Homo sapiens: one gene and its partners. The protein of the gene in region 1 interacts with the protein of each later gene in a pairwise test. Each region holds a gene or a part of one and is shown on either strand. Other genes may lie near its edges.

The links.
Region 2: the proteins of PEX26 (region 1) and E2F8 interact in binary tests that used the Homo sapiens proteins (3 or more experiments, as listed by UniProt).
Region 3: the proteins of PEX26 (region 1) and LHX5 interact in binary tests that used the Homo sapiens proteins (3 or more experiments, as listed by UniProt).
Region 4: the proteins of PEX26 (region 1) and ZNG1C interact in binary tests that used the Homo sapiens proteins (3 or more experiments, as listed by UniProt).

The regions. Positions count from the first base shown.
Region 1 is NC_000022.11:18,080,973-18,088,000, forward strand, and holds part of PEX26 (peroxisome assembly protein 26), read left to right. Parts: intron 1-2,464; coding exon 2,465-2,760; intron 2,761-4,139; coding exon 4,140-4,286; intron 4,287-6,999; coding exon 7,000-7,028. UniProt on the Homo sapiens protein: Peroxisomal docking factor that anchors PEX1 and PEX6 to peroxisome membranes. PEX26 is therefore required for the formation of the PEX1-PEX6 AAA ATPase complex, a complex that mediates the extraction of the PEX5 receptor from peroxisomal membrane.
Region 2 is NC_000011.10:19,230,943-19,237,970, forward strand, and holds part of E2F8 (transcription factor E2F8), read right to left. Parts: coding exon 6,912-7,028; intron 6,529-6,911; coding exon 6,372-6,528; intron 4,117-6,371; coding exon 3,802-4,116; intron 3,580-3,801; coding exon 3,418-3,579; intron 1,430-3,417; coding exon 1,292-1,429; intron 1-1,291. UniProt on the Homo sapiens protein: Atypical E2F transcription factor that participates in various processes such as angiogenesis and polyploidization of specialized cells.
Region 3 is NC_000012.12:113,461,865-113,468,892, reverse strand, and holds the end of LHX5 (LIM/homeobox protein Lhx5), read left to right. Parts: intron 1-488; coding exon 489-766; intron 767-1,471; coding exon 1,472-1,637; intron 1,638-5,335; coding exon 5,336-5,703; 3' UTR 5,704-6,860; downstream 6,861-7,028. UniProt on the Homo sapiens protein: Plays an essential role in the regulation of neuronal differentiation and migration during development of the central nervous system.
Region 4 is NC_000009.12:68,293,956-68,300,536, reverse strand, and holds the end of ZNG1C (zinc-regulated GTPase metalloprotein activator 1C), read right to left. Parts: intron 2,958-6,581; coding exon 2,889-2,957; intron 2,786-2,888; coding exon 2,720-2,785; intron 1,574-2,719; coding exon 1,444-1,573; intron 1,057-1,443; coding exon 950-1,056; 3' UTR 502-949; downstream 1-501.

The DNA of each region.
Region 1 (7,028 bases):
ACCGTCTGCTTCTATGATATCAACTTTTTTTTTTTTTTAAAGATTCACATGAGTGAAATCATGTAGTATTTATCTTTCTGTGCCTGGCTTATTTCACTTAACATGATGTCCCCCAGGTCCACCTGTGTTGTCATGAATGACAAGATTTCATTCTTTTTTATGGCTATATAGTATTCCATTATATATATATATATATATATATATGCGTGTGTGTATATATATACACATATATAAACACATATATACACATAATATACATATATGTACACATATACACACACACACACACACACACACACACACACACATTATCCATTCATCTGTTGTTGGACACTTAGGTTGATTCCATATCTTGGCTGTTGTGAATAGTGCTGCATTAAACAGGGGAGATAATGGATTGCTAGATCATGTGGTAGTTCTATTTTTATTTTTTTCACCTGGCCATTCTTAAGTTTATTTTGATGACACCCGGTGACAGTTCCCTGTACCTAGAAGAAGGTGTTGGGACTCTTGATGTTGGAGTGTGGCTTGTGCTGAAGACACAGGACCTGGTAGGGCAGCAGGAACTTGATCTTGGAATTGTGGAACTGCTTGACTGTCGGCCGGTGGCAGTACCAGAAGCGGGACTTGGCACAACTTGCTTAGGTGCAGAGATTTGCTGGCAGTAGAGGGGCAGCATGTGGCATTTGGGGGTGGGCAGGCAGCAAATACTCTCTCAGTGTGCCCCAGGCCTTCATGGCATTCTCTCAGCACTTGCCACCACTTACAAAAAGGAAGTGCCGTCTTTCCTATTTTGAATTTTTTAAAGGAACCTGCATTCTGTTTTCCATAATGGCTGTACTAATTTACAGTCCCACCAACAGTGTGTAAGTGCTGCCTTTCTCCACATCCTCACCCGCACCAACACTCGTTTTCTTTTGTCTTTTTGATAAGAGCTGTTCTAACTGGAGCGAGGTAGTGTCTCATTGTGGTTTTGATTGGCATTTCCCTGATGATTAGTAGTGTTGAGCATTTTTTCATATACCTGTTGGCCATGGTACGTCGTCTTCTGAGAAATGTCTGTTGAGGTCTTTTTCCCTTTTGAATCAGGTTTTTTTTTTTTTTTTCTGCTGTTAAGTTCCTGATATATTCTGGATATTAACGCTTTGTCAGATGGATAGTTTGCAAATATTTTCTCCCATTCTGTAGGTTGTTTCTTCACTCTTAATTGCTTCCTTTGCTGTGCAGAAGTTTTTAGTTTGATGTCATTTCATTTGTCCATTTTTGCTTTTGTTACCAGTGCTTTTAAGGTCTTACTGAAAAAAACACTTGCTCAGCCCAGTGTTGTGAGGCATTTCTCCTGTGCTTTCTTCTAGTAGTTTCATGGTTTTGGATTTTACATTTAAGTCTTGAATCCATTTTGAGTTAATTTTTGTATGTGGGGAAAGGTAGGGGTCTGGTCTCCTGCATATGGATATCCGATTTTCCCAGCACCATTTATTAAAGAGACTGTCTTTTCCCCTGTGTGTGTTCTTGGCACCTTTGTTGAAAATCAGTTGGCTGTAGGTGCATGAATTTATTTCTGGGCTCTCTGTTCTGTTCTATTTTGTCTGTTTTTATGCCATAACATGCTGTTATGGTTACTGTTATAGCTTTGTGTAGTATGGTTTGAAGTCAGGTAATATGATACCTCCAGCTTTGTTCTTTTTGCTCACAACTGCTTTAGCCATTTGGGGTCTTTTGTGGTTCCATACGAATTTCAGGATTGTTTTTTCTGTTTCTGAAGAATGCCATTGGTGTTTTGATAGGGATTGCATTAAATCTGTAAATTGCTTTGGGTATTTTAATAATATTCTTCCAATTTGTGAATGAACACGGGATATCTTTCCATTTTTTGTGTGTCCCCTTCAACTTCTTTCATCAATGTTTTATAGTTTTCAGTGTAGAGATCTTTTGCCAGCTTGGTTTAATTTATTCCTAGGTATCTTATTTTTTTGGTAGCTATTGTAAATCGAATTGTTTTCTTGATCTCTTTTCCAATGGTTCACTGTCACGTATAGAAACGCTGTTTTTTGTACATTGATTTTTGTATCCCACAACTTTACTGAATCCGTTTATTAGTTCTGTCTGCAAACAGGGATAACTTGACTTCCTCCTTTCCAATTTGGATACCTTTTATTTCTTTCTGTTGCCCGATTGCTCTGGCTATGACCTCCAGTACTATGTTGAATAAAAACGGTCAAAGTAGGCATCTTTGTCTTGCTCCTGATCTTAGAGGAAAGGCTTTCAGCTTTTCCCATTGATTATGCTGTTAGTGATGGGTGTGTCGTGGGGAATTCCCATGAGCATCATCATTTCATCGGAAAGGGCTCGAGGACACAGTGAGGAGGGGCTGGATAGGAGAAGCATAGTGGTCATGGGAAATGAACCAATCATTGAGCACTGACTCTTCTTTTGTTGGGATTGGGTTTTTTGGGGACTGCAGCATTCTTTTATACAGCAAAATGCAAGAGCCTGGAGCTGTGCTGGATGTGGTGGGTGCCTGGCTCCAAGACCCAGCCAATCAAAACCTTCCAGAATATGGAGCCTTGGCAGAATTTCACGTGCAGCGGGTGCTGCTGCCTCTGGGCTGCTTATCGGAGGCTGAGGAGCTAGTGGTGGGCTCTGCAGCCTTTGGTGAGGAGCGGCGACTGGATGTACTTCAGGCCATTCACACAGCGAGGCAGCAGCAGAAACAGGAACACTCAGGCTCTGAGGAGGCCCAGAAGCCAAACCTGGAAGGTAGGACATTATCCCTCTGCGACCTCTGTAAAGTGGACTTGCGGGCTTGCACTGTACCTCGGGGTCTGTCGTGAAACTCCTGCGAGCTTAGAAGCAGTTCTTTGTATGAATAACTCTTGAGTCACAGAATAGGAGGCCTGTTGATTTGCTTCACAAAGTGAAGGCCAGACCCTCTGAAGTTGGCAGTGGAAGGAGAATCTCCACATGGGAAGGTGTTGCTGGGTCTTGGGACCTTGACTTGTCTTTTGAAAGTCATTTTCCCATTGGAGTCCTCTGATGAGGTCTCTTGCTTCCACCATACTGGTCTGGGTGGGATGTCCTTCCTCCTTTAAATGCTGGCCCCAATACAGACACAGCTGAGATCTGCTGGGATAGCCAAAGGAATATCAGAAACTAATTTGCAGACCCTTTCCCTGGTCGCTGAATCTTTTCCGCCCTTTTCCTTGAGTGATGATCTAGTCTAGTTGTGAATACTTCAAGGACAGAAAGTCACCATCTCTCTCTCTTTTTTTTTTTTTTTTTTTTTGTTTGAGACGGAGTCTCGCTCTGTCGCCCAAGCGGGAATGCAGTGATGCGATCTCCGCTCACTGCAAGCTGCACCTCTCAGGTTCACGCCATTCTCCTGCCTCAGCCTCCTGAGTAGCTGGGACTACAGGTGCCCGCCACCACACCTGGCTAATTTTTGTATTTTTAGTAGAGACGGGGTTTCACCGTGTTAGCCAGGATGGTCTCAATCTCCTGACCTCGTGATCTGGCTGCCTTGGCCTCCCAAAGTGCTGGGATTACTGGCATGAGCCACTGCGCCTGGCCTGAAAGGTTCTGAAAGGTTTTAAAAAACTTTTACAAAGATGCATTCAATATAGTAAATAATATATAGTCAAAATAAGTAATAAACACGAGGAAAACAATTTATATTCATGAGATTTGCAAGAGTATGTGCAGTTAAGGAATGAAGGCTTTAGCCAATACCTAATACCCTTTTACTAAACTCTTTTTTTTTTTTTTTTGAGACGGAGTTTTGCTCTTGTTGCCCAAGCTGGAGTGCAATGGCACGATCTTGGCTCACTGCAGCCTCCACCTCCCAGATTCAAGTGATTCTCGTGCCTCAGGCTCCCAAGTAGCTGGGACTACAGGCGCACACCACCACGCCTGGCTAATTTTTGTATTTTTAGTAGAGACGGGGTTTCACCATGTTAGCCAGGATGGTCTCGATCTCCTGACCTTGTGATCCACCTGCCTCAGCCTCCCAAAGTGCTGGGATTACAGGCATGAGCCACTGCGCCTGGCCTGCTCAGGTCTTAGAAGCAAGCACAGAGGTCGGGGTCAGGGAAGCTGATTCCCATGACATCCCTGAAGCTGTGCTCTGTCTCCCTGGCCAGGCTCTGTCTCCCACAAGTTCCTGTCACTACCGATGTTGGTTCGCCAGCTTTGGGACTCTGCGGTGAGCCACTTCTTTTCTCTGCCCTTCAAAAAGAGTCTCCTGGCTGCCTTGATCCTCTGTCTCCTGGTGGTGAGATTTGATCCAGGTAAGAGGTGGAGACTCTCCCCTGTCCTTCCTGGGAAGGGGTTGTTGCCAGGGCTGGGCCTGTGGGAGTGGGTGTTTGTCAGAGTCCTACTGGGGAGGGGAGTCTCTCCTATGACATTTCCCCTGAGTCTGTTCCACAAGGAGGAATTGCTAGACTGGGCATGAGCCAGCCCCACCCATAAGGAGAGGCCAGTCCTGGAGTCTATGAGAGCAGCCAGGAGAAAGTCCACTTGGCCCTGCTGACTCCTGAACATGGACTGAGTCATAGTCCTCCACTTTTTCTAGGGCTGAACTCTGACTAGAACCTCAGAATTTAAAAAAACTTCCTCTTGGCCAGGCACGGTGGCTCACGCCTGTAATCCCAGCACTTTGGGAGGCCAAGGCAGGCAGATCACAAGGTCAGGAAATCGAGACCAGCCTGGCCAACATGGTAAAGCCCCATCTCTACTAAAGATACAAAAAAAATTAGCCAGGTGTAGTGGCACATGCCTGTAGTCCCAGCTACTTGGGAGGTTGAGGCAGGAGAATAGCTTGAACCCGGGAGGCGGAGGTTGCAGTGAGCCAAGATCGCACTGCTGCACTCCAGCCTGGGCAATAGAGCGAGACTCTGTCTCAAAACAAAAAACAAAAAACAAAAAAACTTCCGCTCATCAGAATATCTACAAAAGTGTTAATTCAAGTATTAATGTCTCATGAAGTGTTAATTCAAAGCAAGTTGTAAATGAAAAACTCATACATTTTAGAAAATGTGGAAAATAGGCCGGACATGGTGGCTCACACCTGTAATCCCAGCACTATGGGAGGCCAAGGAGGGTGGATCACCTGAGGTCAGGAGTTCGAGAACAGCCTGGCCAATATGGTGAAACCCCGTCTCTACTAAAAATACAAAAATTAGCCAGGTGTGGTGGTGCGTGCCTGTAATCCCAGCAACTGGGGAGGGTGAGGCAGGGAGCATTGCTTGAACCCAGGAGGCGGAGGTTGCAGTGAGCCAAGATTGCACTGTTGCCCTCTGGCCTGGGCTACAAGAGCGAAACTCTGTCTCAAAAAAGAAAAAAAAATGTGGAAAATAGAGAAAAGTATAAAGAAGGGCATAGAAATCTGCTACTCTGCTGTGCTTTCAGTCTTTTTCTATGGATATAGAGATTGTAGGCAGTTACATGTCACACATATGCTTTCAAGCATGGCCTTAAATCGCTAACTATTCCAGTTCACAGGAATGCCCCTAAGTAATTTAACAACCCCTATTATTGAACATTTGGGTGATTATTCTGTTTTCTGCCTCGCTGTGAAGAAGGAATGAGCTCCCTAAGTGATATTTGGGAACAACCCCAGTTATTTCCTGAGGATTGACCCCTCAGGTGCATGAAGCCAAACTTGGCACTCGCTCTTTTAGATTTTTTTGTGTTACTCAGTGTGAGTTATGTTCTAATCTCTACTCTTCTCATGAATTTAGACTTAGAATATGATTAAATAAGTTTCAAAATTTAAGAGGAAATCAGAAACCCTTATACTGGTCCCTTCAAATGGTTTGTCTATTTTGAGAAGTGCCATTTGTTAACTTAGTCTTTAGATTCTCCCTGTTTCCCCATTTCTCTTTCTCTTATTCAGTGAGCTTTTTTAAAATATTTATTTATTTATTTTTATTTTTATTTTATTTTATTTATTTAGTTTTTGATACTGGGTCTTTCTCTGTTGCCCAGGCTGGAGTGCACCGGCGTGATCTTGGCTCACTGCAACCTCTGCCTCCTAGGCTCAAGCGATCTTCTCTCCTCAGCCTCCCAAGTAACTGGGACTACAGGCATGTGCCTCCATGCCCGGCTAATTTTTTATTTTTATTTTTGAGACAGAGTCTTGCTCTGTTGCCCAGGTTGCAGTGGCGTGATCTCGGCTTACTGCAACCTCCGCCTCCTGGGTTCAAGCGATTCTCCTGCCTCAGTATCCCAAGTAGCTGGGATTACAGGCACACACCACCATGCCAGGCTACATTTTGTATTTTTAGTAGAGACGGGGTTTCGCCATGTTTGCCAGGCTGGTCTCCAACTTCTGGCCTTAAGTGATCCTCTCACCTCAGCCTCCCACAGTGCTGGGATTATAGGCACAAGCCATCATGCCTGGCCAGCGAGGTTTCCGTCACATAGCTCAGAGTTGTCCTTCTAACCCGTCTGCTGAATGCTGAGCAGGGATCCCCTGTGGACGACTCTGTTTGCTTTACAAAGAAGTCACGAGTTAGCGCTCGGAATGCTCAGTATCATCAGCGTTCATCCCTGGCCACCTCCTGACTGATACAGATTTAGAAACTCTTTATGATTCTTTATGGTTCCCGTAAGCCCTTTAGTCTCGTAAACCCTGGTCTCCTAGTGGGGATGGCATGAGGACATTTGAGCCTGCTCTTTCCAAGGCTGCTTCAGAAGGGCCTGGCCCAGTGGCCCTGACCCTCAGCAGCAGGCCCGACTCATTGGAGTGATGATGGTGGGGGAGGAGAACCTGCACCTGCAGGCTGAGGATCGCATGAGCCCCAGAGATTGAGGCTGCAGTGAGCTGAACACAGACTGCACTGTACTCTAGCCTAGGTGACAGAGCGAGACCCTGTCTCTAAAAAAAACAAAACAAAACCAACTATGTGTAATTGGTAGTGGAGTCTCCCAGGGTGGGAGATGGCAGAGTGACAGGTGAGAGGGGTGGGACGTTCACTGTAGTCTCCCTCTGCCCTGCAGCTTCCCCTTCCTCCCTGCACTTCCTCTAC
Region 2 (7,028 bases), on another chromosome or scaffold:
CATGTGCCTGTCACTGTTCTAAGGGCTTTACAGAGAAAGCCTTGTTTATCTTATTAAATGGATTCTGAGACACAATATTTCCTACATTAGCATTTCTGAAACTGCACTATATCTTATAACCAGTGGTGTGCTAGAGTGTAGTTATTAGTGATTTTTCTTTCTTAGTGATATAGAAAGAATTGTGCATCTTACAATCAGTGAAGTCTTAGATCTGATGAAATATGGGTGATCCTCACAGCTCCATGAGGTAACTGTTCCTCAAGAAATGCAGCCCTGTGTCGGAGATGAGAGCTCTGACCCACACAGACATTAACCTACTGGCTCAAGGTCTCTCAACTGGGAGCATGTGGGCCTGGGATATGAACCTGGTCAATATGGCCCCGGAATTTTCACTCCAAATTCCTGCACGAAAGGACCTCTCTCTGAGATTATACCAAAATCACAGTAACTCCACTGAGGTGCCATTGTTCTTCCCATTTCACCAAGGAGAAAACTAATCCTCGAAGAAGTAGCTTGTCTCAGGCCGCAAAGCCAGAGTGGCAGGGCTTGGAATGGAACCTAAGTTTCCCTCTGTCTTCATGGCCCACGTTCTTGTCATTTTCAATGATTCTGGGTGGGGATCTTTGGTAGAATGCAAAATGTCAGCATCGCAGAGTTAAGATGAAGGCTAGAAATATCTACTTTGATACCAGAGTGAACTCATTTCATATTCTCAATGGGCACAGGTTCTGTTGTGGTCACTGTGCCGCATAGCAGCAATAGTGTTTTATGCTTTGTGGTGCTTTCAACTTTCCGAATGCTTTCACATACAGATTGTACTTCTTGAACACAGGGTGGGAGGTTGTTATGGATCTTGGTTAGCTGATGGAGCCAGTAGCCAAACTTTCTATATTGCCATTCATCTTGAATCATCTTTTCAATCATATATATCTTTTCCATGTGGGGCGGTGAGTAGGAAGGGGAAGGGAAAATATCTCCCAATGTGCATTAATTCAAAATAATAAAGCAGGATAAAGAAAATGTGGTACATATACACCATGGAATACTATGCAGCCATAAAAAGAAATGAGATCATGTCCTCTGTGGGACACGGATGGAGCTGGAAGCCATCATCCTCAGCAAACTAACATAGGAATAGAAAATCAAACACTGCATGTTCTCACTCGTAAGTGGGAGTTGAACAATGAGAACACATGGACACAGGGAGGGGAACAACACACACTGGAAATTAAAAATTAGAAAAACACACACACAAATAATAAAGCAGAGGGTGAAAGAAAAAAATACATACCACTGGTATTTGGACTGATTTCTGGGCCGGTCCATTTGAAAGCTGGTTTTCGGCCTCTTTCCTCTGTAACATGAACTTTCTTGATAAGATCCAGGCTACTCAGAACATTAGCTATATCATACAACCTCCTAATTTTTGCTGGGAAAAAAAGTATATATACCACTTAATGGAATAATGAAAAGATCAAAGAATTTTCCTTCAGAAGGACTTCATGTATATTCTAAGAGCTGTCTTAACCATCAATGTCAGACAGAGAAACATCTGCCTCCTTTTAAGTTCTTCTGGTGATACAACTTTAATTAAGATAAAAAAGTTTTAAATATTTAAAAGACTCAATTACTGCTAGTACTCAATGTTGAAATGACAATAGCATACGTTGACAAAGGAAAAACGACTTGATGAGATCACCCTATCTGAAACTATGTTACAGACTGTTTCAAAAATAAAGTCACCATTCCTGGGTATCTTCTAATGAGGATTCAGAAGAATTTTATGAGCAGAGAAGTAAAAGTATCTGTGATAAATGTCTTGCTTTTCTGCTTGTAATAGCTTATAACAAAATTTATTTACTATGGCAGCATGGAAAATTCTGTACTCCATCAACATGTGTAATTTTTTAATACTGTCTATGTAACATGCAAAACATAGATCTGTGAACTTGACAAACCTCACATATCTTAAAGAGTTTTGTTACAAAAAGTCTGTTTTTTACTGCCATCTTGATAGTACAAATTACAAATCGAGTCTCCTTCCTAGCCATATCAGAAGGTTCTGAATTCCCTGGGGATTCAGTAACTTACACCTCTGCAGTTCCTGGAATAGTTTTCAAGGCTATGACTAACCAGTGAAACAAAGATGAAAACTATCCGGTGACTCACAAAAGGCAAGTAACCCCTCAGTAGTATCAGGACGTGTTTTCTGAAATTGCAGATCTCCCGATCTCCCGAGCCAAGTGCTCCTCCCCATCCGCTGAGCACTTCTTTCCACACCCTTCCTGCAAAGTCTGGTGTAATGGTGAGGGCATAGCTCTTTTGTTAGGAATCCAATCTACAGTCCCTTCCCAATTTTGAGCAGGTAATCTAGCTAAAACCATTCTTTCAAAATGGCAGACTACCTGTGCTGCAGGTCACTTCTGGGGACAATTTTATGAGTCATTTATAAACCCTCTGTAATCAGCATCAGTGGAAGGAGACCAGGGTGCAGACCCACTTTACAATTTACTCTCATTTAGAGCTCACACAGAACAGATTCTTCTAGTGTTTCCTTTTTTTTGAGACAGAGTCTTGCTCTGTCCCCCAGGCTGGAGTGCAGTGGCGCGATCTCGGCTCACTGCAAGCGCCGCCTCCCAGGTTCACGCCATTCTCCTGCCTCAGCCTCCTGAGTAACTGGGACTACAGGTGCACGCCACCACGCCCGGCTAATTTTTTTGTATTTTTAGTAGAGACGGGGTTTCACTGTGTTAGCCAGGTTGGTCTGGATCTCCTGACCTCATGATCCGCCCTCCTCGGCCTCCCAAAGTGCTGAGATTACAGGCTTCAGCCACCGCGCCTGGCCGTGTTTACTTTTGAGAACAATGTTACAATATCAAATGAAGCAATGTGTCAAATAAGAGTAGTGATACTTGGCCAGGCGCAGTGGCTCAGGCCTGTAATTTTGGGAGGCCTCCCAAAATTTGGGAGGCCGAGGTGGGTGGATCACGAGGTCAAGAGATCGAGATCCTCCTGGCCAACATGGTGAAACCCCGTCTCCACTAAAAATATAAAAATTAGCCGGGTGTGGTGGCGCGCAACTGTAATCCCAGCTACTCCGGAGACTGAGGCAGGAGAATTGCTGGAACCCGGGAGGCAGATGTTGCAGTGAGCCTAGATCTCGCCACTGCACTCCAGCCTAGCAAAAGAGCTAGACTCCGTCTAAAAAAAAAAAAAAAAAAAAAGAGTAGTGATACTTATGTATCATAACAAGTTAGCTAAATCAATATTATCATGGCTTCTGGGGAGAAGATATAAAAACATAATTAGAGAAGATCTGTTTATGCACCTATGTTTCCTAATTTGGAAATGAGTTTACGACTGAGATTTTATTGTTTAAGAATAGGTTCAAAAATCCATGGCAGTCATGACACTTACTTTTAAACTTGCTTTTATCCAAATCTTCCACATGGTCCTCCCCAATTAAAATCTTGGCAGCAACTTCTAGGCTTACTATCTGAGGCGTTGACACCAAAAACAGCATCACAAATTTCTGGCTCATTACCCTTAAAGACTTGTCTTTGCGGCTGTTTACAGAAGCTTTAGAGAAGGATGAGGATTAGAGAATTAAAATTCATAAAGGGACAAGTGACTTCTAAAGTAACAAGGCTAAAAATACTACCACCTGATCATACAGCTGACAACTGTGGCATCTGAACATTAAAGGCAGCAGTAGCTTTAGAGCTGTGTTCTCCACAGAACCTTTTCCTTAGACAGAGGACAAATGCCATGCCGCCTGGAGTTTTCACTACCATCTCTCACCTGCCCGAAATTCCACTCCAGGGAGTTCCACAAAACACATGTCTGGGTGTCCATTTGGGCCAGTGTTTGATTTGATGATATGATCCTCTATACTGTAACTCTTAATAAAGTCAAACTCTTGCTCATATTCTTTCTTTTTGATCATCATAATCTGCTCGGCGTACTTATTCTCCTCCCCGATGCTCTTCAAGGTGCCAAGGGTTTTGTTGAGATTGTGTCGCCCGTGCCAAGTGTACCTGTTTTTGGCGAGGCGGCTCACCATATGTAAACTCTCTAGGACGTTCACGATATCGTAAATGCGTCGACGTTCAACATCTACAAAGAATGTGCAATTGTGTGTTACAGATTTTTGTAACGTGTTTAGAATTGAATAGCTTTTTCTTCCATTGGTTTATTAGTCAGTAGGTCTTGGATAATATCACTTTCCTAACTGTAAGTGAACATACTCAACAAATACTGTGAAGGTGAGAAAGACATGTGCTTGCTTTCCAAGGGCACAAATCATATGAATTAGAAAGGCAACATTTAATGAGGGCCTAAGTTGTGCTACACAGCTTTAGGAAGTTTTCACCCTAAACTTGTGAAGTAGGTATTATGATCTGCACTTTAAAAAGGATGAGAAAGGCCGGGTGCGGTGGCTCACACCTGTAATCCCAGCACCTTGGGAGGCCGAGGAGGGCGGATCACGAGGTCAGGAGATGGAGACCATCCTGGCTAACATGGTGAAACCCAGTCTCTACTAAAAATACAAAAAAATTAGCCGGGTGTGGTGGCGGGTGCCTGTAGTCCCAGCTACTCAGGAGGCTGAGGCAGGAGAATGGTGTGAACCCGGGAGGCGGAGCTTGCAGTGAGCCTAGATCGCGCCACAGCACTCCAGCCTGGGCGAAAGAGCGAGACTCCGTCTCAAAAACAAACAAACAAACAAAAAAAAAAAACGATGAGAAAACAGAGGCTCAGACCAGCTAAGTAGCTCACCCCAAAAGAGCTAGCAAGTAGCAAACCAAGTCTTTAAAACTCTACATCTCACACCTTCCAACCGCTTCCAATACAAACACGTACACACACGCCCATCTGTAATGATCATAAGATAGAAACAAAATGCTGAGATTTCAGAAAAGTACAAAAACCATGATGTAGTTTTTAAAAACTTACATAAAAATAAAATATGCCTTTTTGGGTCTAATTTTGCTTACTTTCTAGCTATCATTAACAATATGATATTAGTAATTCTGTGACTCTATCTATTTAAATTGGGTTTTCAATATTCTGTAATGTTAGAATTCTCTTCGTTCAAGAAACTTAATTTCAATTTAAATATTTGATGAGATCAGCCTTTCTGGAAAAGTGATCAATAAAACACTATTTTAATAAGGGTGCATCCTACCGACCTCTTGCTGTCCCTGGAACCTGCCAGATATGCACTTGCTTTGTACCGGCTGTTCCTTCTGCCTGGAACCCTTCTCCCTGATGTCCTTACAGCTCCCTACCTTGCTTCTTTCAAGTCCTTGCCCAGATGTCACCTTCTCAACGAAGCCTGATCTGACCACTTATGGCAAAGCACCTCCCCAGCACTCCTGATCCCTTGATCCTGATCTACAATTTATTTTTTCCACTATGCATGTTACCTTCTAGCATGTATTATCCTTACTTACTTCCTATATCCTTTACTCAGTATCTATTGCCCCACTAGAATATAGGTTCTAAGAGAGAAGAGATTTTGCCCTTTTTGTTTACGGATGTATCCCAGGCTCCTACAACATTGCCTGACACATAGTAGTAGAAGATTAATAGATATTTGCTGAATATCCTACCCAGCTACCATTAAGCATATATGAAAAGTAGATGAATCTAAACGGTATATTCTTAAAATGTGAAATAAAGTTGATATTTACAAACATGTATTAGAAGGGCAACTTTTCTTCACGGGGTGATTGCTTTGTATTAAAATGTATTATCTTGCACAGCACATCACTTCACAGGTTTAAATTAAGATACCCACATGACTCCAAAGGTACCCCAAATTCACCACGGGCCCCTTTTTAGCTCCAAATAGATTCAGGTCTTTGAACAGAGTAAAAAGGGGCAGGAGGAATAACTTGTGCCCAACACAAAACATTCAGAAAACTAGTCCTCAGAATAGTGCTGAAGGTCCAGGAGTGCACAGGTCCTGTTCCCACTCACAGAAGCTGATCCTCAGCGTCAACTAGGAAGATAACCATTTATCAGCCTGATTCTTCAAGAACAGCAAGGGAGAGCAATGAAGCAAAAGTTCACAGTTGTAACTTTGTGAAACAAGTCATGAGACAATATTGCCTTTCTTTAAAGCTTCAGAGACAACTGTAGTCAGAAGCAACCTCCATTGTGACTTTTCTGCCTCCAAGATTTGCTGAAATTTGCAACTACTTACCTTCATTCTTATATTAGAAGAGGGCTTTAGAGATAGAAAATTTCCATGCCGGCTTATTTGTGTCATTTACAAACACTGGCTAGATGAGCGGGGGTCTGAAGGAGTTAAGTCCATAAAGCCACTTTAATTATTAATTCTTTCAGTGAGTTCTTTGCATACTTACTAAGTTCCTCTGCCACTTCGTCAAGGCAGATGTCATTATTCACAGCAGGGTTGGGATAATTAGGATATCGTGCTAAGAACTTATGACACAATAATCCTAAACTTTTCTCTTTTCGACTTGGTTGGGATTTCTCAAATTCATCTCCAGATAAGTGTTCCTACAAAGGAAAAGGTAAACAATGTCTTATTCTAAAATAAAGTCTGACAGATTTATTAGGGGCATCTGTGCTCGATGACTGACACCAACTTACACACGCTTAGCTTCAACAGCTGCAAAGTCTGGATGGGAGAAAAGGTTAGGGGGGCCAGTACAAAATGCTTGGCAAACCTGAAAGGAAAGCCTGAAACGAAAATAACGCAAAGGTTCAGAATTCCCAGAGCTATATTTCTTGGGGTCCAAACCTTTCTGGTGCTCCGAAGGAAGTTAATAACAGCCTTCGGGTGGTGATGCTTTAAATTGCTGGCACTTCTCTAATAGCTACAACCTCCCCCCTCCCCCCAACAAATTCCCCAGCCTCCAACCAGTCCTCTGAAAACCTACGTGTATACAGTCTTTGGCCTCAGGTAATCCACTTCTGTTGTCAAACAAACCCCTTTTCTGATCTCTGTTGCGGATCTCAGGGCTCACAGCACTGATGAGCATTTTCAGGTTGGCTGT
Region 3 (7,028 bases), on another chromosome or scaffold:
CAATTCAGGAGCCTTTTCCAAGTTGCCCTCCTCCCCTAATTTGGAAGCGCACAATTCCCCCTTATGTGTCACTTGAGCTCCAGGTAATTTCTTGATGCACTGGAAGGACATTAATTGAGGTCTGGAGAGAGGAGGGAAGAGAGAGGAAGATCCAAGCCCCAAGGGAATCTGTGCCCTCCTTGTCCCCTCTCCTTGAAAGTGGGAGTTCTCCAGAGGGTACGCGTCCCCCTACCCTTACCCAGGTACTAGCTGAGACGCGCGGAGAGGGCTTAAGAGCGCCCCTCCAAAGGCCCAGCCCCGCCTGGAGAGAGTGGGCGGGCACCGGGTCCCTGGGGGAGGGGCTGTCGCAGGTTTGGGAGGGAATCCAGCGGGGCTGGCCGTAGCCTGGGCAGGCCGTAGCTTGGGCCGGCGGGAACCCGCCACTGGACTGAAGAGGCGTCTGGCCGTCGCTGACGCCGCTGTCCCCTTCCCGATCCGTCCGCCCGCAGTGTCATCCTGTACGGACCGCAGTTTGTCCCCGGACCTCCAGGACGCACTGCAGGACGACCCCAAAGAGACGGACAACTCGACCTCGTCGGACAAGGAGACGGCCAACAACGAGAACGAGGAGCAGAACTCGGGCACCAAGCGGCGCGGCCCCCGCACCACCATCAAGGCCAAGCAGCTGGAGACGCTCAAGGCTGCCTTCGCCGCCACGCCCAAGCCCACGCGCCACATCCGCGAGCAGCTGGCGCAGGAGACCGGCCTCAACATGCGCGTCATCCAGGTGCGGCCCGGGGCGGGCACAGCTCCTTAGCCCCGCTGGCCTGGGAGCCGGGAGCCTCGGAGGAGTCTCCCGCCAAGCTTCCTTGGCTACGAGCGCGCCTGGTTCTGGTCTGGGAGCAGACCGTGCGCCCGAGTGGGGCACTTGCCCGAGGTCGGGGACTGTGAACCGAAAGATTCCATCTAGCCCTGCTGTCCTCCTGGTATTGCGATTTGGGGGCGGGTCACTTTACCTCTCTGAATTCCGCCCCCCGCCTTGCTTATGGAAGGTTGTAAGCCTCTCTGGGGTCCGGGATCCCTCTTTACCTCCACCTTTCGAGCAGAGAAACAGGCGATGCCCCCTCCCTCCCTGCGCCGAAGCGCGGGCAGACAAACGGCCAGAGGCTGGCTCCGGAGCCGAGGGGCCGAGGCGAGAGCCGTGCCGGGAGGGAGGCCTTTATAGAGCCGTCAGGCCGCGGGCGAGCCGGGGACCAGGAAGCCCAAGTCTTTATGAGTCGCCCCACGGGTCCGCGAAATCCTTCACCCTTGGCTGGTTCGCCGAAGCCTCTCTCCACCCCTCCCGGCCTAATCCGGCCCGGCCCCGCCTCGGGGGAGTCCTGGTGCGGAAGAGGCGCAAGGACCCAGCAGGGGCAGCCCAGTCAGGGAAGGGAGAAGAGGGGGGGAGAGGACACTCCTGATCCTGGGTTCACAGCCCCCTCCTCTGTCCCAGGTGTGGTTTCAGAACCGACGGTCCAAAGAACGCCGGATGAAACAGCTGAGCGCCCTAGGCGCCCGGAGGCACGCCTTCTTCCGGAGTCCGCGGCGCATGCGTCCGCTGGGCGGCCGCTTGGACGAGTCTGAGATGTTGGGGTCCACCCCGTACACCTACTACGGAGGTAAGGGGCGCCCCGGGATTCGCTGTTCCGCACCTGTCCTATTCCGGGAGCTGAGGGCGAAGGGTCCCGGCCAGCACGCTTTCCGCCGCTCCAGAACATCGCCCACTCGCTGGACACACGATCACAGACACATGTACACTCACCCACATGTCCTGGACACAAAATCAGATACATGGTCTCACCCATACAGTGATGCACACAGAAGCACACACGAGATACAGTGACACATTCACCCACGCAGGGCACAAGGTGCACTCACACTTGCGTTCAGAGACTCCAGGGACACACGTCTAGACACGATCGCACGATCACGTATAGGTAAATTCCACCCTCTCACACACAGGTACACTCACGGAGACACAACTCCACAGACGCGCACACTCCCACCAGTCACACTGAGGCCAGTACTGGCAAATCCACATGCATGCGGCCCCCACGGACAGACGCACAGCCTTCCTGCCGCCCTGTGCCTGGTGTACTTGGCATGAGGTGGATTCCGAGCGCTGGAGGGTAGTGTGAGGGGAGGGGATGGGGGTCTGGATTCATTCCAAGCCGCCTGCTCACTAGCATCGAAGGCAGCAACTCCTGTTCCATGTGGCGGGGTGTGTGCGCACAGCATCTGGCAGTGTTAGCCCAAATGCCGGCAGTTGCTCTGGGCAGGACTGTAGTCCACCCTCCAGCCCCGAGACCCCTGGGGTTCCTACAGACTGGGGGCACAAGTGTTGGGCCAACCCCAGATTTCCACCGTCTTTGGGGCTGCAGAGAGCGAGGAGCCCCAGTTTACAAAGGGCTTCAGATGGTGGTACCAGGCTTGGGCCTGGGGTGAGCTGTCCCCTTGCCACCTCAGCTTTTCCTCCTCTCACTTCCCTCACACTGGATTGGTGAGCCATCCCAACTCCCCCTATCCGATTTTTTCAGCTCCTTACCCTGAGCCGCATTGCTTGAGCTCACCAAGCTCACTGTCCTGTTCTTCCCAGGGCTGAGGGCTCAAGAAAGCACCTCTCCTCTTCTATTCTGAAGCTTCTGAATTTGGAGAGACCCCAGGACTGTCTATGTCTGAGAGGCATCTGCACTTCTGAGTTGTAACGCAGGTTAGGAAGAGGCAATTTCTCTTAGAAAGTGGGTTCAGTGGCAGTGTTAGCAAGGCAGGAGCTAGGCACCCAGGTAGACGCAGAAGGGAAGGGAAGATAACCCCATCACTAACCTCAGCACATCCGGAAGCCTGAGGGGGGATTAGACCTTGAGACCGGACCGGGGCCCCTAGAAATTGTGGGCAAAATGCCAGGCTGTGCTTTTCAGGGCAGAGACCCCAGGCAGTGGCAGGGCTCAGGCTGGAGCGCCCCAGCCGCCCAACCCTGGACAGCCCCCCAACCCTGGACAGACCCCCAACCCCGGACAGACCCCCAACCCTGGAGAGCCCGGATGGTGGGCGTGTCTTCCGGAGTCTCCACTCACCGACTCTCTCCACCTAAATTTGCCTCTTTCCCTACAAAATCTGGGCCCGGAGCAGCGAGGTAGTGGGGGCGGTACCGGCCCGGAATTTTTCCCCGCCTGGATAATTAACCAAGGTTTCCCCGAGGACCACTTCGCCCCCGCCCCGACCTATCCCACCGCCTCCTCTCCCTGCGCGCTGGATGAGGTGGGGAGCTGGATACTGGGGGCCCCTCGTTCCCCGTAATGGTGGGGAAGACTCCCCAGCCCCCAGCGAGGCAGCCCCGCCTAATCCGCGCTGGGAGATCCCGGCGGTGGCGACCGGCAGCGGGCGAGAAAGGGGCCGGGCGGCGGGGCCGGCGGCTCCCCGTGGGAGCGCGGACAAAGCCCCAGCTGCGGCTTTTGTGCCCTTTTCAGACGGCGTTTGTTCCAATTACCTCCGGCCCGGCCGCCATATGGGCGGAGGCGGCGCGCACGGCGCGGGGGCAGCGGCCTTCGCTGGTTTTCCGGCTCGCCGCGGGCCGCGGCCGTCTCCCATCCCTGTCCCTTTGGGGCTCCAAATTTGCCGCTCCCCATCTTCCCCTTCACTTTCGGGGAGAATTAAATTAATGGTTTTAAAAAGTAATTGGCAACCGTTTTAGCTGTTGCTTAAACTGCCTCCAAGCCACGCCTCCAGACACCCCCCATTTGGACAGATTTCAGGGTTTGGAGAGGGAAGAGGGTGGCAGGGGGCATCAGGAATTCGCCCCTTGACTGAGATCCCAGGACTCAGCAGGGGGAGTGGATTTGCAGAAGAGACTCAGGCTTCTGGACTCGCTGGTTTTCCCGCCGTACAAAGCGGGTGCCTGGTACAAGGTGGTCCTTTCGTGACGTCCCCCACGTCAGTCCTTCAGGGCCCCACCTGGTGGGGGAAGGCAGGATATCCCGAAGGTTCTGGAAAAGGGGCTATGTGGGGCGGTCAGAGAGTTGATACAGATTTGTTGAGGCAGAATGGGTTTGCAATCCGGAGTCCCTACACCTCCTGAATTTATGGGCAAAATTCTCATCCTTGCATTTTCCTTGAGAGAGAGCCCATAGCTATCACCAGCTTCTCAAAAGATCTCAATGTCCTCAGATGCTTCAGAACCTGGGGGTGCTGGCAAAACCAACCCGGGGCAAGGCTGGAGGACCGAGCTTCTACCCCAAGGAGCCCGCGGAGCTCTGGCCATGACCCAGAGAATCTTCGTGTCCTCCTCCCCCTCTCCCAAGTCGCTGGAGCTCAGTTTTCTCTTTCTCAGGCTAGGCTAGGCCGGTACAAATGGTCTCACCGGGATCGACGCGGCGGCCGTACTTGGCGAGGCGAAGGACTTGGACTGGGTTGGTAGGGCGCAGGGACCGAGTTTAGGGCGCCAAGGCCGCCCCGCCCGGCCCAACCCACCAGTCGCTCCTGCCGCGGCCCGGATCCAGTTTCCCCCGGCCAGGTCGCTTCCCGGTCTCAACCATTTCGCGCTCTGCTCTGTCCGCTGGTTTGTCCCTGCCCGGTTCCTCTCCCCGGGCCTGTCAGCCTCCGCTTCTCTGGAGGTTCCTGGGACTCATCTCTGATCCACCGTCTTGCGTTCTCTGGGCGCATCGACTTCTCTCCATCTTCGGGCTCACTCCTGACTCCCTCGCTGCCGCCCCCGGGGGTTTCCACGCGTGTCTCTAACCGCGGCCGTCTTTCCTCTCTCTGCGTCTCCTCGACTCCTCCGCGACCCTCCGATGTCTCGGGCTTTCGGGTCTCAGCCGCGGACTCCGCGTCTCTGGGTCTCTTTTCCGCCTTTCTCTCTGCCCCTCTGCCGATCTCTCCGTCTGTCTCTCGCTGTCCCGCATCTCTGTGTCTCTCACCGACCCTAAGACACTTAGGAATCATTGTCTGTCTCTGCGTCTCTGGCCGCCTCTGTCTCTCTCCATCTCTAGGTGTCAGGGAACCTGTGACTGAAGTCTCCGAGTTTTTGCCGCGTGTGTCCCCCACGGTCTCGGAGTCTCTCCCGTCTCTGTGTGTGGTCTCTGGCAGTCTGAGTCTCTTGCCCTTTCGAGATCTCTCATTGTCTCTCTCCCCAACCCTCCCCGTGAGCCTGCGACGTCCACCGTCTCAAGGGGCGCCGGCCTCCGCAGGTCTCTCTAACCTTGGGTCGGTGTCGCGCGCTCCCCTCTCTCGCCCGCCCGGGTCCCCTCCCCGGGTCCCGGGTCCCCCGCCTACTTCGCCTTCTCTCACCGCGCCCTGTCTCCTTCCCGCTCCCCCTCCGCAGACTACCAAGGCGACTACTACGCGCCGGGAAGCAACTACGACTTCTTCGCGCACGGCCCGCCTTCGCAGGCGCAGTCCCCGGCCGACTCCAGCTTCCTGGCGGCCTCTGGCCCCGGCTCGACGCCGCTGGGAGCGCTGGAACCGCCGCTCGCCGGCCCGCACGCCGCGGACAACCCCAGGTTCACCGACATGATCTCGCACCCGGACACACCGAGCCCCGAGCCAGGCCTGCCGGGCACGCTGCACCCCATGCCCGGCGAGGTATTCAGCGGCGGGCCCAGCCCGCCCTTCCCAATGAGCGGCACCAGCGGCTACAGCGGACCCCTGTCGCATCCCAACCCCGAGCTCAACGAAGCCGCCGTGTGGTAAGGCCGCCGGGCCGCCCCCCGCGCTCGGCCCCCGGGGGCCCCGCCCCGAAGCAGCCTCCTGAAACCAAAACGCCCGACGCAGACGCGGTGGGAGACGTGGGTGTCCCTCGGGGGTTCTCTCTCGGGTCCGCACTCAACTGGCAGCTGCTCCTCGGCTGGGCGCCGAGGGGGGGCCGACCCCCATCTCCACCCCGCGGGCTCTCCAGGAGCCTCAGCCCACCGCCAGTACTCTCCCAGCAACCGCGAGCAATTTCTTGGGACCAAAGTCAATACTCCGGAGGGTCAAGAGATTTCGAGCACGCTCTAGACTTTCCCCGGGCCCCCACCCACCCACCCAGCCACCGCCACCTCTTTGGACTGAGAGAGGGTGAGGCCAAGGGGCGGAGACGGTGTTTTTCCCTCTCTCTGCAATCCGAGTGGCATTTTGTAATCTTATTTCTCGCTGTGCTTTCCCCGTCTTTAAAAAAAAAGATGATAAGAAAAGGAGAGAGATTGAAAGAGAGGGAGAGGAAAGGGGGCAAGATGAGGAGGAGATGGAGAGACAGCGTCAGCCAGAGGGAGAAGACGGAGAGCGAGCGAGGAACTCGCGTGAACCGGGAGCCACCGAGAGGGAGACCGAGCCACCTGCACGCTGGCGCTCCCTGGTGGCCAATCTTGAGGCTCAAGGTCAGCTTCTCTAGGAATAGGGCTGTGGGTCAGGAAGTGGCCAGCCGGGTCCAGCTCCCGCTCTTCCTTACTTTGACGTTTATGTTGAGCCCGAGGGAGCAGGCCGGACTCGAACACGCACACATCCTGCTCTCCCCCTGGGTGGGGCGCCAGGATTGCTGGGCTCAGACCCACAGACCACCCTCCCTGCCCAGGGCCTGGAGGCTGGGCCGTCAGGATGTACAATATTATACTTTTTTGGAAGTTGAACGCTTCTAGTTTCCTTATTTTGTATAAAGAAGAAACAAATAAAGTATGTTTTTGTGTTTACTGTTTATTTATTGTACTCTAGTTATCCGGGGTTGGACATTTTTATATTTTTAAGAGGAGGTAGGGCAGAGTGACGGAGGGGAAGCAGAAAGAGGTTTACCTAAAAAAAACAAAAAACAAAAACAAAAAAAATCAACTTTTTTTAAAGAGAAAGATTAATAAAAAAAAATCTTTTTTCCCTCAGCGCTGTGTGGTTTTCTTTTTTTGTCCCTACCTTGATAACGACTCAGAGAGAATGAAACCATTCCTTTCCCTGGTTCTGGTCTCTGACATTAAACCCTTGATGGGTGCAAAAACCTCTGCTCACCCAAAGGGGGAGCTCTTCTAGTGACTCCCAGGTTCATGAAAGTG
Region 4 (6,581 bases), on another chromosome or scaffold:
ATCAGCATAGGAATCGGATGACCTGGGAAAGGGAGTATTGTTAGTTTTCCTAGAGCCAGCTTCAATAGGGATTGGGGTTATTTAAAAATACAGGAGAAAAATAAGGAGGCGCTCAAAAACAAAACACAAAACCCACATTGATGGGGGTATGTCAAAGGGGGGAACAGGAGATAACGGAAAGAGTTCCCAATGGTCAAAGCTGGGATAATTTGAGCAACAAAATAAAGTAGTATTAAATTGTAACCCAAAGTATAAAATATTCATGTGTCCACACTGATAAACATAAATGATCGAACTAATAAAGCGAAAGGGACAACTGTCCCTCGCAGAAGAATTTCAATTAATTATGTAGACCACTCCCAAGAAAGTACACTACAACTCCCCATTCCTTTAGTGTGGGCTGTGCATAGTGATTTCCTTCCAAAGAGCACAGTATGAAATGGGGGAAAAGAGTAACTTTACAATGGAGAAACCTGACAAACACTCCTTCAGCCAGGTGATCAGGTCGTCAACATCAACATCAATAACAGTCATAACCTTTTATTTCATGTCATAAAATGGTGACACTTACTTGTGTTAAAAAAATTTAATAACAATGTAATCATTATATCTCTGCAATCAGCTGAAGTTCTAAGAAAAAATGACAATGTTGAAAGTTGTATCATCATTATTATAAACTTTCATGTTCAGTATATGTAAACTCCAAAGCCAATTTCAAAAGATATTTTTGTGAAATACCATTCTTTAAAAAAAAGGATATTATATATAATTGTATGAATGTTAAATGTTTTACAGTACTGATTTGCTACATTTTATGTATGCTGTAAAACAAATACCATTTTAAAGTATATTGGAATTCGTAACTAAAGTAATAAATAAATGCTTGAAATATACCCAGTAGAAACTTATTTTTATTATCCAATCCTTTTGATAAGAAATGCCTCTAGTGTTATGTACAAACTTGATCTTCTTTGAAATGTGTTGTCCACTGCTTTTCTGTTTCTGTCACAGTAGCTATAAACAGCTGTTTAAGGATATCCTTATCTAAATTTCTGCCTGCAAACAAAACAAAATATGACGTGATTACATTATGCTTATTAAAATGACACAGTTCACCTATCAATTCCAGTTCATTAAATGCTTTATGGTGTTTAAAAATTTACAAAAAGAATAGTAATTGAGTGATTCCATCTTTAACTTTCCAGGTCAGTACATCAAAGTCACATTGGTCCTTGGATTAACCACTTTTCTAAAATTGAAGAAGAACAAAAGTCCTAACAAGCTTTTACGAACGTTGTAATGTGACAAAGATGAAACATTGACCACAAGCTTATTTAGTTTTAAAAGAGGACCTGAATGGTTAATCTGTTTAAGTGGCACATGATATCCCTTTCAAATATATTTTTCACTTTGTTTCAAAACTGTGAATCCTTTGAGACTTACCAATGAGGACCAATCGATTTGTTCTCTCAGTGTCATCCTTCCAGCTCACTGGAGTCTCCTCCAGATCATAGAGCTCATGGACACCCTGGACAATCACTTGTTGTGATTTGTCTTTGATTGACACCAATCCCTGCTCAAAGGAGAATTGACTGAACATTAATCAGCCTCAGTTCAAACTTAAAAGCAGAAATAGAGCATCAATGTTAATGGATTAATTACTGATATTCACTTAAAAAATACAAACTCTTAAGCTGAGAAAATTACTTAATTCCAATTATTTGTGAATTACAAGAAGTTTCTTAATGTTTTTAATTTTCAAAAAAGGTTTCTGTGTATTGATTTTTTTTTGAACAATCCCCTTTTCTAATGATAAAGTTAATACATATATTAGGATGGTTTTTCAGTGTTATTTATCACAACCAAAACCTGAAACAAAATGATGAAATATGTATCATATCCTATTGATTAAAGATTTTATATAATGTTTCACAGTTTTAGTGGGAAAAGTTGAGAAGTTAAAGGAGTTTTGTTATATTAAATAATTTGTTTTAGAAATGGGTTGCAATCAATGAACAATGTTGAAATAAAGAAAAACTATTATATTTATCTGGATATGAGCTCAATTTATCTGAATATGAGCTCATTGTGTATTGATTTGCAGAAATGAGAAACGAATTATCTGATAAACTGGCTCCTATGGGGATGAAATTAATTTATTTGAAATAATATTCTTAATTTACCAAAAACTTTGTGCACACTTGTGAACACACAAGAGTAGACACTCAACTGACTGGTTAAGCATACACTTTAGAATCACTGCTTCCTAGAAGAAATACCTTTCATGACTTAAATACCCAAATATCAAGTAATGTGAGTGGGTTTCTAAATACAGAACAAGAATTCTTCTAGTCCTTTGTAACTTTGTTTAGAGTACAACAAATGTTTAGTGTCTGCTAAATGCATCAGGAAGCATAATGTTCAGCAGAAGTGAGATTTGCAACATTATTTCTCTGTACTTGGGAACAGAGAGCAGAAGGTAACATTTCAAAGCACACAGGTTTGTTCTAGCTGCAACCCTAAAGAAAGTTGTGCAAATAAATCAAGCCTTATGCAGTGATTTCCAAAGCTCCTTTTCAGTCATGAAAATAATAAAGAAAAATGAAAGTAGACAAAGATGATTTGTACTAAAACCAGTGTTTCTGTTTAAAACCAAATATAGTTTTTATAACAGCCAAGAAAAGGACTTTGTCCAAAAGTCTGCAACAGTAAACTGTACCTTCAGCCTTATGACCTCCATGCAGTGATTGTCCTTGTTTCTCACATTCTTTTCCCACAGAAGATTCTGTATCAAGTGACATATTTTAATAAGACCAACCATCGCTAATAGCAACAACTATGTAACAAAACCATTGATAAATCATTAATCAGTTAAAAATTGCATTCACCTGAATAAACATATTAAGATGTTCTTCCTTTGCATTTCCTGGTACTTCAAATGTGATTGTAACAATACTCTGTAAATCAAGGGAAATAATAATAATTCTTTATAGTAATATCAATGTTTTTTAAATCACAAATTTTAAGATGAAAGGAACATATTCATGGAATTTTACATTGCTTAAACCATATATATTACGTATTATACTTTCCTCAGCATATGTGCTGTTTTTTTGGAATTAGCAACTCCATTTCCTACATTCTGCACAGGTACCAATGGATTTAGTATTTACACAAACTACTACCTTGTATTTTAAAAAACTCACTCAGAAACCCTGATGAAAGGGTCCTCATTATTTAATTCATTCTTTCGTGGATTCTCAGGAATAAGAATATATGTAACACATACAATGTACTCACTACACAGGGCCAGGTACTTTTGCCTGAGTCACCTCATTGTATCTTTTGACTTACTCTTCACAACAATCCTGGGGAGTGAAGATAACTATTTCATTTTATAAATTGGGGAAAATAAGGGTCAAAAAAATAAGCTACCCAGAGCCAGGAATAAAACTCAAAACCAAAGTAAATTTGTTCTCTTAAAAAAAAAATACAAAAGAAAGGCTTGGCTTATCTTTAACTGAATAAGCATGTGCCAAGAGGAGAAGAGTTCTTAGCGATGAGAATGATAGGATAATGCCCTCTTTGGCTTTAGTAAGGGTGACATCATCATGTATTGAATATTAACTTTAGGATTTATTTTTCTTCTTTATCTTGATAAATCTCTCACTGTCTACCCTAAAGAAACAGAAGCTTAACATTTCCTCTAACAGGTCACCTAATTAAAACCCAAACCTCCCTTTGCCAATATAACCCCAAATTTCAAACTCAGAGATGAAAATACACAAGGGCTAAGCATAACATTATAAAAACATACACCCCACCTTGGAAAATAGAGGCTCAAAAGCCAAGCTCAAAATGAATTTAAAAAGGTAGAAAATAATATACTAAAGCACATCTTTGCATAACTTCCTAGAACTGCGTATCTGGCCTAGCAATTTTACTCACCATTACATAATCATACAGGCTTACAGCAGAAAATACAAAAAGACCAAAAACTATTTTATAATCCAAACTCAAGAGAATCGCTAAAGTATTAAAGACCAATTTAGGCAGAAACATATGAGACATTTCTTTCTTTCCATAGGTTACTGGGGAACAGGTGGTGTTGGTTAACTTCTTTAGTGGTGATTTGTGAGATTTTGGTACACCCATCACCTGAGCAGTATACACTGCACCCAATTTTTGTCTTTTATTCCTCATCCCCTTCCCACCCTTTCTCCCTGAGTCCCCAAAGTTTATTGTGTCATTCTTATGCCTTTGCATCCTCATAGCTTAGCTCCCACTTATGAGTGAGAACATAGCGATGTTTGGTTTTCCATTCCTGAGTTCTTTCACTTAGAATAATAGTCTCCAATCTTATCCAGGTCACTGTGAATGCCATTAATTCACTCCTTTTTATGGCTGAGGAGTATTCCATTGTATGTATATATATCACAGTTACTTTATCCACGCATTGATTGATGGGCATTTGGGTTGGTTCCACGTTTTTGCAATTGCGAATTGTGCTGCTATAAACATGCGTGTGCACGTATCTTTTTTGTATAATGACTTCTTTTCCTCTGGGTGGATATCTAGTAGTGGGATTGCTGGACCAAATGGTAGTTCTACTTTTAGTTCTTTAAGGAATCTCCACACTGTTTTCCATAGTGGTTGTACTAGTTTACATTCCCACCAGCAGTGTAGAAGTGTTCCGTGTTCACCACATCCATGCCAACATCTACTATTTTTTTGATTTTTTTATTATGGCCATTCTTGCAGAAGTAAGGTGGTATCGCACTGTGGTTTTGATTTGCATTTCCCTGATCATTAGTGATGTTGAGCATTTTTCCATATGTTTATTGGCCATTTGTATATCTTCTTTTAAGAATTGTCTATTCATGTCCTTAGCCCACTTTTTGATGGGACTGCTTTTCTTGCTGATTTGTTGGAGTTCATTGTAGATTCTGGATATTTGTTCTTTTTCAGATGTATATATTATGAAAGATTTTCTCCTTCTCTGTGGGTTGTCTGTTTACTCTGCTGACTTTTCCTTTTGCTCTGCAAAAGTTCTTTAGTTTAATTAAGTCCCAGCTATTTATCTTTGTTTTTATTGCATTTGCTTTTGGGTTCATGAAATCCTTGCCTAAGCCAATGTCTAGAATGATTTTTCCAATGGTATCTTTTAGAATTTTTATAGTTTCAGGTCTTAGATTTAAGTCTTTAATTTATCTTGGGTTGATTTTTGTATACAGTGAGAGAGGAGGATCCAGTTTCATTCTCCTACATGTGGCTAGCCAATTATCCCAGCACCATTTGTTGAAAAGGGTATCCTTTTTCCACTTTACGTTTTTGTTTGCTTTGTTGAAGATCAGTTGGCTGTAAGTATTTGGGTTTATTTCTGGGTTCTCTATTCTGTTCCATTGGTCCATGTGCCTATTTTTATAACCGTACCATGCTGTTTTGGTGACTATGGCCTTATAGTATAAGTTTGAAATCAGGTAATGTGATGCCTTCAGATTTGTTCTTTTTGCTTAGTCTTGCTTTGGCTACGCACATGTGTATGTTAAACCATCCCTGCATCCCTGGTATGAAACCCCTTGATCATGGTGGATTATCTTTTTGATATGTTGTTGGAATCAGTTAGCTAGAATTTTCTTAAGGATTTTAGCATCTATGTTCAAGGATATTGGTCTGTAGTTTTCTTCTTTGGTTATGTCCTTTCCTGGTTTTGGTATTAGGGTGATACTGGCTTCATAGAATGATTTAGGGAGGATTCCTTCTTTCTCTCTCTTGTGGAATAGTGTCTTTAAGACTGGTACCAATTCTTCTTTGAATATCTGGTGGAATTCTGTTGTGAATCCGTCTAGTCCTGGACATTTTTTTGTTGGTAATTTTTTAATTACCATTTCAATCTCCCTGCTTGTTACTGGTCTGTTCAGGGTAATTCTTCCTGATTTAAGCTAGGAGGGTTGTATCTTTCCAGGAATTTATCCATCTATTTTAGGTTTTCTAGTTTATGCATGTAAAGGTGTTCATGGTAGCCTTGAATATCTTTTGTATTTCTGTGGTGTCAGTTGTAATATCTCCCGTTTCATTTCTTATTGAGCTTATTTGGATTTTCTCTCTTTTCTTGGCTAATCTTGCTAACGGTCTATCAATTTTATTTATCTTTTCAAAGAACCAGCTTTTTGTTTCATTTATCTTTTGGATTTTTTTGTTGTTTTGTTTCAATTTCATTTAATTCCGCTCTGATCTTCTTTCTTCTGCTGGGTTTGTTCTTGTTTCTCTAGTTCTTTGAGATGTGACCTTAGATTGTCTGTGCTCTTTCCAACTTTTTGATGTAGGCATTTAGGGCTATGAACTTTCCTCTTAGCACCACCTTTGCTGTATCCCAGAGGTTGATAGGTTGTGTCACTATTGTCATTCAGTTTGAGGAATTTTTACATTTCCATCTTGATTTCATCTTTGACCCAAAGATCATCCAGGAGCAGGTTATTCCATGTATCTGCATGGTTTTGAAGGTTCCTTTTGGAGTTGATTTCCAGTTTTATTCCACTGTGGTCTGAGAAAGTGCTTGATATAATTTTAATTTTCTTAAA